Regions from separate parts of the Homo sapiens genome. Here region 2 is linked to region 1. Evidence: fine-mapped expression QTL. A gene starts in region 1. The other region holds a variant in brackets. All regions are shown on one strand. Distances are from middle to middle. Region 1 holds the start of ODF1 (outer dense fiber of sperm tails 1). Region 2 holds the start of LINC03047 (long intergenic non-protein coding RNA 3047).

Region 1 (5,495 bases):
CAATGGACTTGGAGTTATCATTTCCGAGATCCAGAAATTAATGTAAAGACATCACCAGCTTCACATATTGCCTGCAGGCAGAGAAAAAATAGGCAAAGACCCAGACGCTGTCAGGAAGAGCATCACAAACCAGAGAAAACATTACCTCTTGCCTAAACTACACTGCCGAGAATTAAGCTTGAAGCTGTTTCTACTGCATGCCAAGAAACAAGGCTTCTGAAAGAGGCATCAAGAGAGTAGACAGCACAGGACAGAGAGGGATTTTAATTGGTAGAGTCTGGGGATAGGAGAGAAGCCAGGAAGACAGAGGCTGGAAAGACCTGGACAAGGGTATTCAAGTATCCAAAAGTAGGAGGAGAGTGGATACTGATCTGCTCACAAGGAAACCTTAACTTGGACCAAATATTTTAAAAAGAGTCCCTGCCTCACAGTGTGAGCAATTTATGTGACTTGATGCCCTAAGAAATAAAAACAAACATTGGTTCAAAGAGTATAGATGAATTTACAGGTGAAAGCTCCCAGGCTATGAGGGAGGTTCATTCCTGACCATTGGTGGCTGGTGACCTAGACAATAATTATCCTTTTTTTTTTTTTTTTTTTGAGACAGTCTCACTTTGTCACCCGGTCTGGAGTGTAGTGGTGCAATCTTGGCTCACTGCAACCTCTGCCTCCTGGGTTCAAGTGATTCTCCTGCCTCAGTCTCACGAGTAGCTGGGATTACAGGCACGTGCCACTACGCTTGGCTAATTTTTTTTTTTTTTTTTTTTTGTATTTAGTAGAGATGGGGTTTCACCATGTTAGCCAGGCTGGTCTCGAACTCTTGAGCTCAGGTGATCTGCCCGCCTCCGCCTCCCAAAGTGCTGGGATTACTGGCATGAGCCAATGCACCCGGCCTCCTATTGCTTTTTCCAAAGAAACATCACTGTCACTGTTGTCAAGAGACTCTATCTATCTATCATCTATCTATCTATCTATCTATCTATCTATCTATCTATCTGTCATCTGTCTATCAGTTTTTCTGCACTTTGCTTGTTTGACTTAATACATCAATATGTAAGATGCTTCATCAATCCTTTCTATATTTACTTATTATTCCAGTGCATGAATGTATTATTTATTTAACCAGGGACAGCACTTTCAACCATCTTTTTCATCAACAGTAACAGACTAAATGGCATATGTAAAAAGTTAGAAAAGGAAAGTTTTCTCCAGGCAAAAAGAAAATATAATCTAAAACAAAAATTTTTTTAAAAAACTGACTCTTTTTAATTACCCAATTCAATTAAAAAGCCTTTCAAGTCTATCCTGAAAGCTACAACTCAGTGCCATAGTTTATTTGCAAGACCTTTGCTAGAGTTAGAGGGGAGGCCAACATGATAGACCTAATTCCAGATACAAGGTAAGTCTTTGCCTGGAGTGGGGGGATAGGAGAATGATATTCCCACAAAACCAAGGCAATGCCTCTACTGTTCAATTTGCTCTCCTGCTTGTAAAGCCTCTGGCACACATTAAGGATTTGATCTATTATTATTACTTCTCCTGTAGTCATTTCTGTAAGTCCAAATATACTCAAATCACTTTACTCATAACCAGGAAAAATGTTTAGTTTGCTGCTTCCAATGGCTTTTTAATGACACCCCCTGTTTCTTCCCTTCATTAAAGCCGCATTATTTATCATACTGGCATTCTTGCTATAAACCACCGACGACCTTGCCAATCGACATCATTACATTGTCTTTTGAGAACCCTACAATTCCCATCATGGACTCATTTACTCTTCTTTCCTTAAATCTTTCCTAAGTCACCAGGGTCATTATCCTGAACCCTTTTAATCTTTGTTCAACTATTGATTGTCACATATTTTTCCTTATTCCAACTTATAAGGCTAATATACCGACTATAAAAATTTAAAAATAAGTTATTTTACTTGGCAAGCTCTCGCTTCTCATCTTCTATGGCTCTGATGGCTTTCCTCTCCAAACTTCTGAGAGATGGTCGCAGACAGTAAAGCTTATAATCACACAGGCAACATGGGTAGAGATCACACAGGCCGCAAGAGCGTGATCGCTTGGAATAGCACAAGCAGTACGGATATGGGTGCAAGTCACAGCAGCAATAGGGGTGCATATACAAGTCGCACAGGCACCGTGTGCTAAATTCGTCGATGCATCTCAGTTGCCTTAGTTCTCTGTCCACCTTCTTTATGTCCCTTCTGACACTGTCCAAGAGACAACTCAGTGCAGCCATTATGGTCACACCTGATTGTTCTGTGAGTACCTTTGGGAAATGGCACTCCGGGAAAAAATTTGTTCTAAGCCCTTCTCAGAAGTTGCTTTTAAAAATAAATGAGGCACACATGATTCACTTACTTTAAAGCTTGTGTTCTATGACCTCACCACCTTCTGAAGTATGTCATAGTCTTCTGGTTACCATGTGAACTGTACACAGTCATGGTCTCCAGAGACCATCCTCAGAGTTACAGAGCTACTCTCAGAACCATACTCGTGTTGAGATTTCACTCACCTTCAAGGAGGATGGGTCTCCCAAGCGAGCATAGCTCATCGGGGTGCATGGGGCTGGCCACTAACATCCTTGCCTTGTGTGTGCTCTGGGGACCAGCCATGGCTATGACTGTGTGTTTGTTGAACTTGGTGCAGGCGAAGGCAGGAGCTGCCCACGCCTTTCTCCATGACCTTCTAGCTCTAGCCTTGATTGGAAGCTTGGCCTTGCTCCTTTTGTTCTAGAATTCATTCTGTCTCCAGACAGGTAGAATATAAAGAATGTTCTCATCATTCTCCTCCTACCAAGTCATCCTCAAGTCAGCCATTGTCCTTGACCTTCTGAGTTACAAGTCTCTGAGTCCTGCCCATTCTGCGCCAGCTGTGGTCATGGCTGTTCGGGAACCTCATTTCTCTACTGGTTGGGGGTCCTGTCCTTAAGCTCCCATCTGTCAGTCCTCGGGGGCCTGTCCTGGGGAACTACCTCCCATCAACTACACCTTTGGTCTTGCATCCAAGCCTCCGGATGTCTTGTCCCTGAGTGCTTCCCAAATGTTGGTCTTTGATGTTCTTGTAGCCAACCGCCTGAAGATGCTGGAAGCCAACTGCCTGAAACCCCCGCTTCGGCCAGTTTCCTTTACTTTCTGTTCAGTTAACATCCTAGACCTCTGATTCGGCCTCAGATTTGGCTCTCGGTGCCTCTACTCCTCTGGTCCTTTCACCTCAAACTGCGGTCCAGCTCTCGAGTCTCCCTTGTATGAACTAGAGCTCAGGTATTGATGACAAGTGGTTGGATGTGACACTGGTGAGGGAGACAAGGGCCAGGTTTGAAGGGACCTGTAGCCAGACTAAGGACTCTGAACTTTATTTTGAGCCCAACGAAGGATTGTTGATTTTCTTTTCTTTTGTCAGAAGTGAGACAGCCACACTGAAGGTAAGTTGCTAGGGACAATAGTAGTGGGGTTTTCTGCTGCAAGACAAGAAGAGACAACAAAAATCTGGACTGGGGATCATGGCTATGGGGATGGCAAGGAGGAAGCCAATGGGAAAGCCTTCCCCCACCTCTGCCCAGGCCCCATCTAATCCATTTTCCACATTGTAGCCACAGCGACTTTCATATAGAAATCTGTCATTCCTCAACCTTCCCCACCCATCATCCCACTCACCTTAAAAGTCTTCTCTGTCCTCTCAAAAAAAGGACCAAAATCTTTACCAGGTGCTGAGCAATGGGGCCTCTCCCACTTCCCCACTCTCCTCTCCCATCCTAGTATTATTGCAATTCATTACCCCTCAGCCACGATGGCCTTCCTGGAAGACCACTCACTTTCCAGAGGCCGTTCCTTAGTCCCTTGAAGGACATTCCTCATTCCTTCCACCTCATTCAGAGCTCATACACAGGACGTTCTGCCTGCTTAGAAATTGAACTCCCCACCTATGACTTTCATCCATTTAATTCTTAAGGCACCCTTTAGATCTCCCCCTTTCTTGGGGAAGCCTTCTCTGTCTCCCAGACTAAACACTCTCTTAACTTAGGATACATTTCCTTCATGATATTGTTTCCCCAGCTGGACTGTAAGCCACGAGGGCAAGGACCTTGTCTATTTTTGCTTCGCAGTAGATACCTAACACAATGCCTGGCACATAGCAGGTGCTTGAAATGTACTCACTGAATGACCATCTGGGTGAATTCAACAGGATTTAGTGAACAGAGTGAGGATGGAGTGAGGGAGGAATCAGTGGTGACTTCCAGCTTTCAAGCTTGGCAGACTCTTGGTGCCACTGAGATAAAAATAACACAGGGAGAAGAGTAAGTTTGGGGATTTGGTGAACAGGTGGTGCTGGTGACAACTTTAAGGTAGAAATCTGGAGTATTCTGTGGATAAGAGGGTCTGGAATTTGAGGAAAGCCTGGGCTAGAGATATAAATTAGGAAGCCACAATTCCATAGGTAGTTGGAACCCTGGAAACAGGCAAGATAATTCAGAATTTAAAAAGAGAGCTGAAGCCGACTCCCAGGGAAAAATAAGTAGAAATGAGGAGAGTGAAGGAGTCCATGAAAGGCTCATAGAAGGAGTAACAGAGGGCGACAGCCCCCTCAGCTGGAGTCCCTTGGGAGTCACTAGACCAAGCATGGCATTCCCAATGGCTCGATGTTCCCCAGCCTTGACTTAGGAGGCCCTTTTCTGTGCAGATAATGTGTCTTAGCAAACAAGTGTCCCTAGAGGCATTAGAATGAGAGGCTGGCCCCTTGAGTCACGTGGAATGAGTCAAAAAGCAAAGCTGAATGATTCTCCTCTATGGACAAATTCTGACCTCTTTAAAAGTGATTCCACTGTGATTTGATTCTGAGGGGTGGACCCTATTAATAGAAATATGGCCTACTCTTTCCTGAGAGTTAATTGCAGGAGTTGTACAGATTTCTCTAGCTCCAGGTGACAGAGAATTCTTATATCACCTTGAATTCTATCCCTTAGCAAATGTCAGCAAAGATTGAAGCAGGCAAGCTCTCAGTTTAATATTATTATATACACAAGTTCAGGTGCCTAAATACACACATCTGTGTATACATGGTACATTATTAAGATGGGTATAGCTATATTTCAACTAGGATTCTCCCATTATCCCACCTTCCTAGTGATTTTTCTTTTTTTATTTTGAGACAGGGTCTTACTCTGTCACCCAGGCTGGAGCACAGTGGCATGTGCTCTCTGCAGCCTTGACCTCCTGAGCTCAGGTGAGCCTCCCACCTCAGCCTCCCCAGTAGCTGGGGCTATAGCCATGCACTACCATGCCTGCCTAACTTTTGTATTTTTTGTAGAAATGGGGTCTCACCATGTTGCCCAGCCTGGTCTCAAACTCCTGGGCTCAAGCCATCTGCTCACCTTGGCCTCCCAAAGTGCTGGGATTACAGGCATGAGTCACCACTCCTGTCCCTTCCTAGTGATTTTACTCTTCATCATGAAGTATATTCTTATCATTTTAAGTGACTAAATAAAGG
Region 2 (5,264 bases), 25 kb after region 1:
GCCTTACCAGTCCATCCTCCCACAGCCACCAGGAGGAGTGAGAACGATGCCAGCACAGCTCAGCACACAGCACAGCGCACAGCACAGAGCACGTAGAACACAGCGCACAACAAAGCACACAGCGCACGGAGCACAGCACAGAGCACACACGCGCAGCACACAGCGCACGGAGCACAGCACAGAGCACACAGCACAGCGCACACAGCACAGCGCACACAGCACAGAGCATGCAACACAGCACAGAGCGCACCGCGTGCACAGCACACAGCGAGCACGGACCACACAGCGCACGGAGCACACAGCGCACGGAGTGCACAGCACAGCGCAGGCTTCTGGAGCAGATTCTGGAGGAAGTCCTGGTTCCGCCACTTACCAGCTGTGCGGTTTGGGGCACAGTTCTTCCCCTGCCTTAGTTTATTTATCTACAGAATGGGGTGGGACTAATATTTAGTAGGGTTGCTGAGAATTAAATGAGTTAAATATAGAAGAATATCTTTGAACTTGGCAGGCAGTAGACAAAAGTTTCTTAGAGTTAATATGTATGAAGTGCTTAGTGTTTGGCACATAGTAAATAATATTCGATGTTATGTTTTTCTCCACAAATACGAATTATGTCCTCAGCCACCGTAACTGCCCAAGGGGTTCACCTTGCCTGCTGCCTAGACTGAGCCGATTCATCAAGACAGGGGAATTGCAATAGAGAAAGAGTAATTTACGCAGAGCCGGCTGTGCAGGAGACCGGAGTTTTTTTTATTACTCAAATCAGTCTCGCCAAGCATTCGGGGAGTCGAGTTTTTAAGGATAACTTGGTGAGTGGGGGGAAGCCAGTGAGCCAGGAGTGCTGATTGGTCAGGGATGAAATCATAGGAAGTCGAAACTGTTGTCTTGTGCTGAATCAGTTCCGGGGGGTCCAGGGGCACAAGATCCGATGAACCAGTTTATTGATCTGGGTGGTGCCAGCTGATCTATCAAGTGCAGGGTCTGCAAAATATCTCCAGCACTGATCTTAGGACCAGTTTAAGGAGGGTCAGAATCTTGTAGACTTCCAGCTGCATGACTCCTAAACCATAATTTTTAATCTTGTGGGTAATGTTAGTCCTACAAAGGCAATCTACTCCCCAGGCAAGAAGGCGGTCTGCTTTGGGAAAGGGCTGTTACCGTCTTTGTTTAAATTAGAAAAACTAAGTCTCTCCCAAAGTTAGTTCAGCCTATGCCCAGGAATGAACAAGGACAGCTTGGGGGTTAGAGGCAAGATGGAGTCAGTTAAGTTAGATCTCTTTCACTGTCTCAGTCATGATTTTACAAAGGCGGTTTCACCATCCCTCCCATAAACATGCAGGAGCAGCTAAAGGCAATTTGGTTTTGAATTACATGTTTATCCTTATATCTAAACTAGCAGAAGAATATATTTCAAAATGTAGGAGATGGGGCTGGGCGAGGTGGCTCTCACACCTGTAATCCCAGCACTTTGGGAGGCTGAGGGGGGTGGATCACTTGAGTCCAGGAGTTCAACACCAGCCTGGGCAACATGGTGAAACCCCGTCTCTACAAAAAATACAAAAAAAGTTAGCCGCGCATGGTGGTGTGCACCTGTAGTCCCAGCTACTCAGGAGGCTGAGATGGGAGGATCGTTTGAGCCTGGGAGGTCCAGTCTGCAGTGAGCTGTGATTGCACTGTTGCACTTCAGCCTGTGTGACAGAATGAGACCCTGTCTCAAAGAAAACAAAAGTAGGAGATGGGATTATGGTGCTTACTTTTTTCCTTTTCTTTACTTTGTGCCCTTTCAAATTTTCCAAAGTTTGTATATTGAGCATTTGTTATTTTTGCAACTATGGAAAATGCCAATTTTCTTTCCCCCCAAAAGACAAGAGAAGGCTCCTGGGATGATAATGGTGTAGGTTAGGAGAAACTTGTTCCCGTGAGTTGATTAAAGCTCAAACACCAGGCAAGGCTCCTTGGGAAATGGGTGGACCTTAAAAATTAATGATTCCCTGCTGTTTGTGTCTCAGAAGAAACCTGTGTTTATTTATTGCTCTTCAGACTTGCCATTTCAGCATATTGAAAAGAAACCAAACAGAGAGAAATTAAAAGTGCATGACTCGATTCCTTCCTACAAGCTAAATTGTTCTGAAAATTTCCTCTTGGATTCCCAGATTTTAAGACGCTTAGTCTGCTTCCTGCCCCTAATTGCTCTATTAATTTAATCTGCTCAAAGTCTCCCAAGAGTCTAGGTCATCCGCCTTTGGGGCTGGCTCTGTCTGGTATGGACTGGTCTTCTCCATAGACAGTTTTGCTGAGTTGTTTTACATGTTACCCAACCTTCTACTTTGCTAGTTTTCTCCTTCCAAGAGGGTTTCTCCTGACCTAATTAAATGAGTTCTGGTATTTGTGTGAATTTGCCCATTGAAATGATGTGAACCTATTTTCCTTTTTTCAGTAGGGACCTAGAGCTACACATTTGTCCTAATTTTCCTGTTTTGGGTTCCTGATCATTTATCTTATGAGCACTCTGTAGCTTTATGTGTATCTAGCATAAATTGACTCTTTGCATAAAAACAGACTCAGCAAATTTGTTTGTCTTTCTGAGCCTTCATTTCCTCATCTGTAAAGTGGGGACAAAAACATGTGTATTCAGGCCAGATGCAGTGGCTCACATCTGTAATCCCAACACCTGGGGAGGCCAAGGGGGGGG[GGC/C]CGATCACTTGAGTTCAGGAGTTCGAGACCAACCTGACCGACATGGCGAAACCCTATCTCTACTAAAAATACAAAAATTAGCCAGGTATGGTAGCGCACGCCTGTAGTCCCAGGCTGCAGCAGGAGAATCACTTGAACCCAGGAGGTGAGCTGAGATTGCACCAGTGCACTCGAGTCTGGGCGATAGAGTGAGACTCCATCTAAAAAAATATATATATATGTGTATGTATTTGTTTCCTGGGATGCTGTAACAAATGACCTCAAACTGGGTGGCTTAAAACAATAGAAATGTATTCTTTTATAGTTTTAGAGGCCAGAAGCACAGAATTGAGATGTCAGCAAGGCCAAGCTGACATCTTGGCCTTTGATTCTCCCTCCAAAGAGAATCCTGGAAGGGGAGGATCCTTCCAGCTCTGGCCTTCTCTGACTTGTGGCAACAAAGATTTCACCTTCTGCTTCTATCCTCACATGGCCTTCTTTCCTGTGTCTCTCCTGTTTCAAATCTTTTTTTCCTCTGTCTTGTAAGGACACCAGTCATTAGATTTACTGTAAATCCACGATAATTTCATCCCCAAATCAATAACTCTGTTCTATCTGCAAAGACCCTATTTTCAAATAAGGTCACATTCACAGGTATCTAGAGTCACAATTTGGACATATATTTTGGGGAAACACTATTCTATCACTACAACATATCAATCTTGTTGAGTTGCTCTGTGAGTATTAACATGAAACACGAGGCTGGGCATGGTGGCCAATACCTGTAATCCCAGTGCTTTGGGAGGCCAAGGTAGAAGGACCGCTTGAGGGCAGGAGTTTGAGACCAGCCTGGGTAACATAGTGAGACCCCAGCTCTACAAAAGTTTTTTTTTTAATTAGCTGTGCATGGTAGTGCATGCCCATAGTCCCAGCTACTTGGGAGGCTGTCAGGAGGATCACTTGAGCCTGAGAGATCAAGGCTGCAGTGAGCTATGATTGTACCACTGCACTCCAGCCTAAGTGATAGAGTGAGACCCTGTCTCTAAAAAAAAAAAACAGACGCTGGGTGCGGTGGCTCATGCCTGTAATCCCAGCTCTTTGGGAGGCCGAGGCGGGTGGATCACGAGGTCAGGAGATCGAGACCATCCTGGCTAAAACGGTGAAACCCCGTCTCTACTAAATATACAAAAAAATTAGCCGGGTGTGGTGGTGGGCACCTGTAGTCCCAGCTACTCAGGAGACTGAGGCAGGAGAATGGCATGAACCCGGGAGGCGGAGCTTGCATTGAGCCGAGATCGCGCCACTGCACTCCAACCTGGGCGACAGAGCGAGACTCCATCTAAAAGAAAGAAAGAAAGCAGGCCGATGTGGTGGATCACGCCTGTCATCCCAATACTTTGGGAGGCCAAGGCAGGCGGATCACCTGAGGTCAGGAGTTTGAGACCAGCCTGGCCAACATGGTGAAACCCGGTCTCTAAAGTACAAAAATTAGCTGGGCGTGGTGGTGTGCGAATGTAATCCCAGCTACTCAGGAGGCCGAGGCAGGAGAATAGCTTGAACCTGGGAGGCAGAGGTTGCAGTGAGCCAAGACTGCACCACTGCACTCCAGCCTTGGCAACAGAGTGAGACTACTTCTCAAAAAGAAAAAAAGAAAAAGAAAGGAAGAAAATGATATGGTAATGTGTGTAATGTAGCTAGCATAGAGCTTGACACACAGTGTGTGCTCAACCAATAATAATCACCATAATTGCTATCATCACAAGAATACTTACATTGGGCCAAGCCTTATACCAAGCCTATCTGAGCCAGAACTGGGGCTCCAACACAGGTTGCTGTGGCTTGGAGCCCATGCACTGCTCTGCTGCACTCAATTGCCTTAGTCTCATCTCTCTACTTCTCTGCTGTGACCCAGCACCTCCCCCTCTACCCCTTCCACACTTTGCACATTGACCCAGAGTTATGTGTGGTGGTGTTTATTGGGAAGAATTAGTAATGGAGGATGGGAAGAGAGAGAGAAGCTTCTCTGAGTCCTTGTGAGGGCAGCTGACTTGCCCCAGAGTGGGTGATCTAAGGAGGAAGTCACAGTGTCTTTGTTGCCCTCATCTGGAAAGTCACATGTCACTTCTGTGGCCCTTTATTGACTGGAATTGAGTCAGTAAGCATAGCCCATACTAAAGGGGAGGAGACATAGGTGTCACCCTTTGAAAGAAGTATCAAAGAATCTGTAGACATATTTAAGAACTACCACGCTACCCATGGGGGAGAGATGGCCTTTGTCTAGGAACAGAATCAGGCTCTTTAGCCAAGCCACTATGAGTGGTGCAGAGGCAGGCTGGAGCTGGGTTTAGGAGCAGGGGCTGAGCAGTGCTAAATTGTCCCAAGGTGTTGCAATCCAATGGGAAGAACTTGAATTTGAGGTCAAAAGAAGAGAAGAAGATAAAAAGGGGAGTGAGGAGAGAGGATGTAACTGCATGATTGGTTCATTTTGCCTGCTGCCCAGATAGCCAATGGATCAAGACAGGGGAATTGCAATAGAGAAAGAGTTTAATGCACATAAAGCTGGCTAAACAGGAGACTGGAATTTTTGGTTA

Evidence for each region. PIP is the estimated chance that this variant, and not a neighbour inherited with it, causes the effect. A credible set is the group of variants that fine-mapping cannot tell apart.
Region 2: its variant is the best candidate, but not a certain one, in a credible set for the expression of ODF1 in prefrontal cortex (BrainSeq, PIP 0.88).

Annotation. Positions count from the first base shown.
Region 1 is chr8:102,548,480-102,553,974 of GRCh38, reverse strand. ODF1 (outer dense fiber of sperm tails 1) reads right to left here and starts at 2,386. Exons shown (of 2, transcript NM_024410.4): 1 at 1,928-2,386. The coding sequence starts at 2,247. LOC124901998 (a long non-coding RNA gene) reads right to left here. Exons shown (of 3, transcript XR_007061039.1): 2 at 4,166-4,277; 3 at 3,379-3,468. It overlaps LOC105375684 (a long non-coding RNA gene), which reads left to right and starts at 3,347. Exons shown (of 2, transcript XR_928478.3): 1 at 3,347-3,432.
Region 2 is chr8:102,523,599-102,528,862 of GRCh38, reverse strand. LINC03047 (long intergenic non-protein coding RNA 3047) reads right to left here and starts at 42. Exons shown (of 2, transcript XR_001745731.2): 1 at 8-42. RefSeq lists an enhancer at 46-265. The variant GGC/C (reference allele first, on the strand shown) is at 2,693.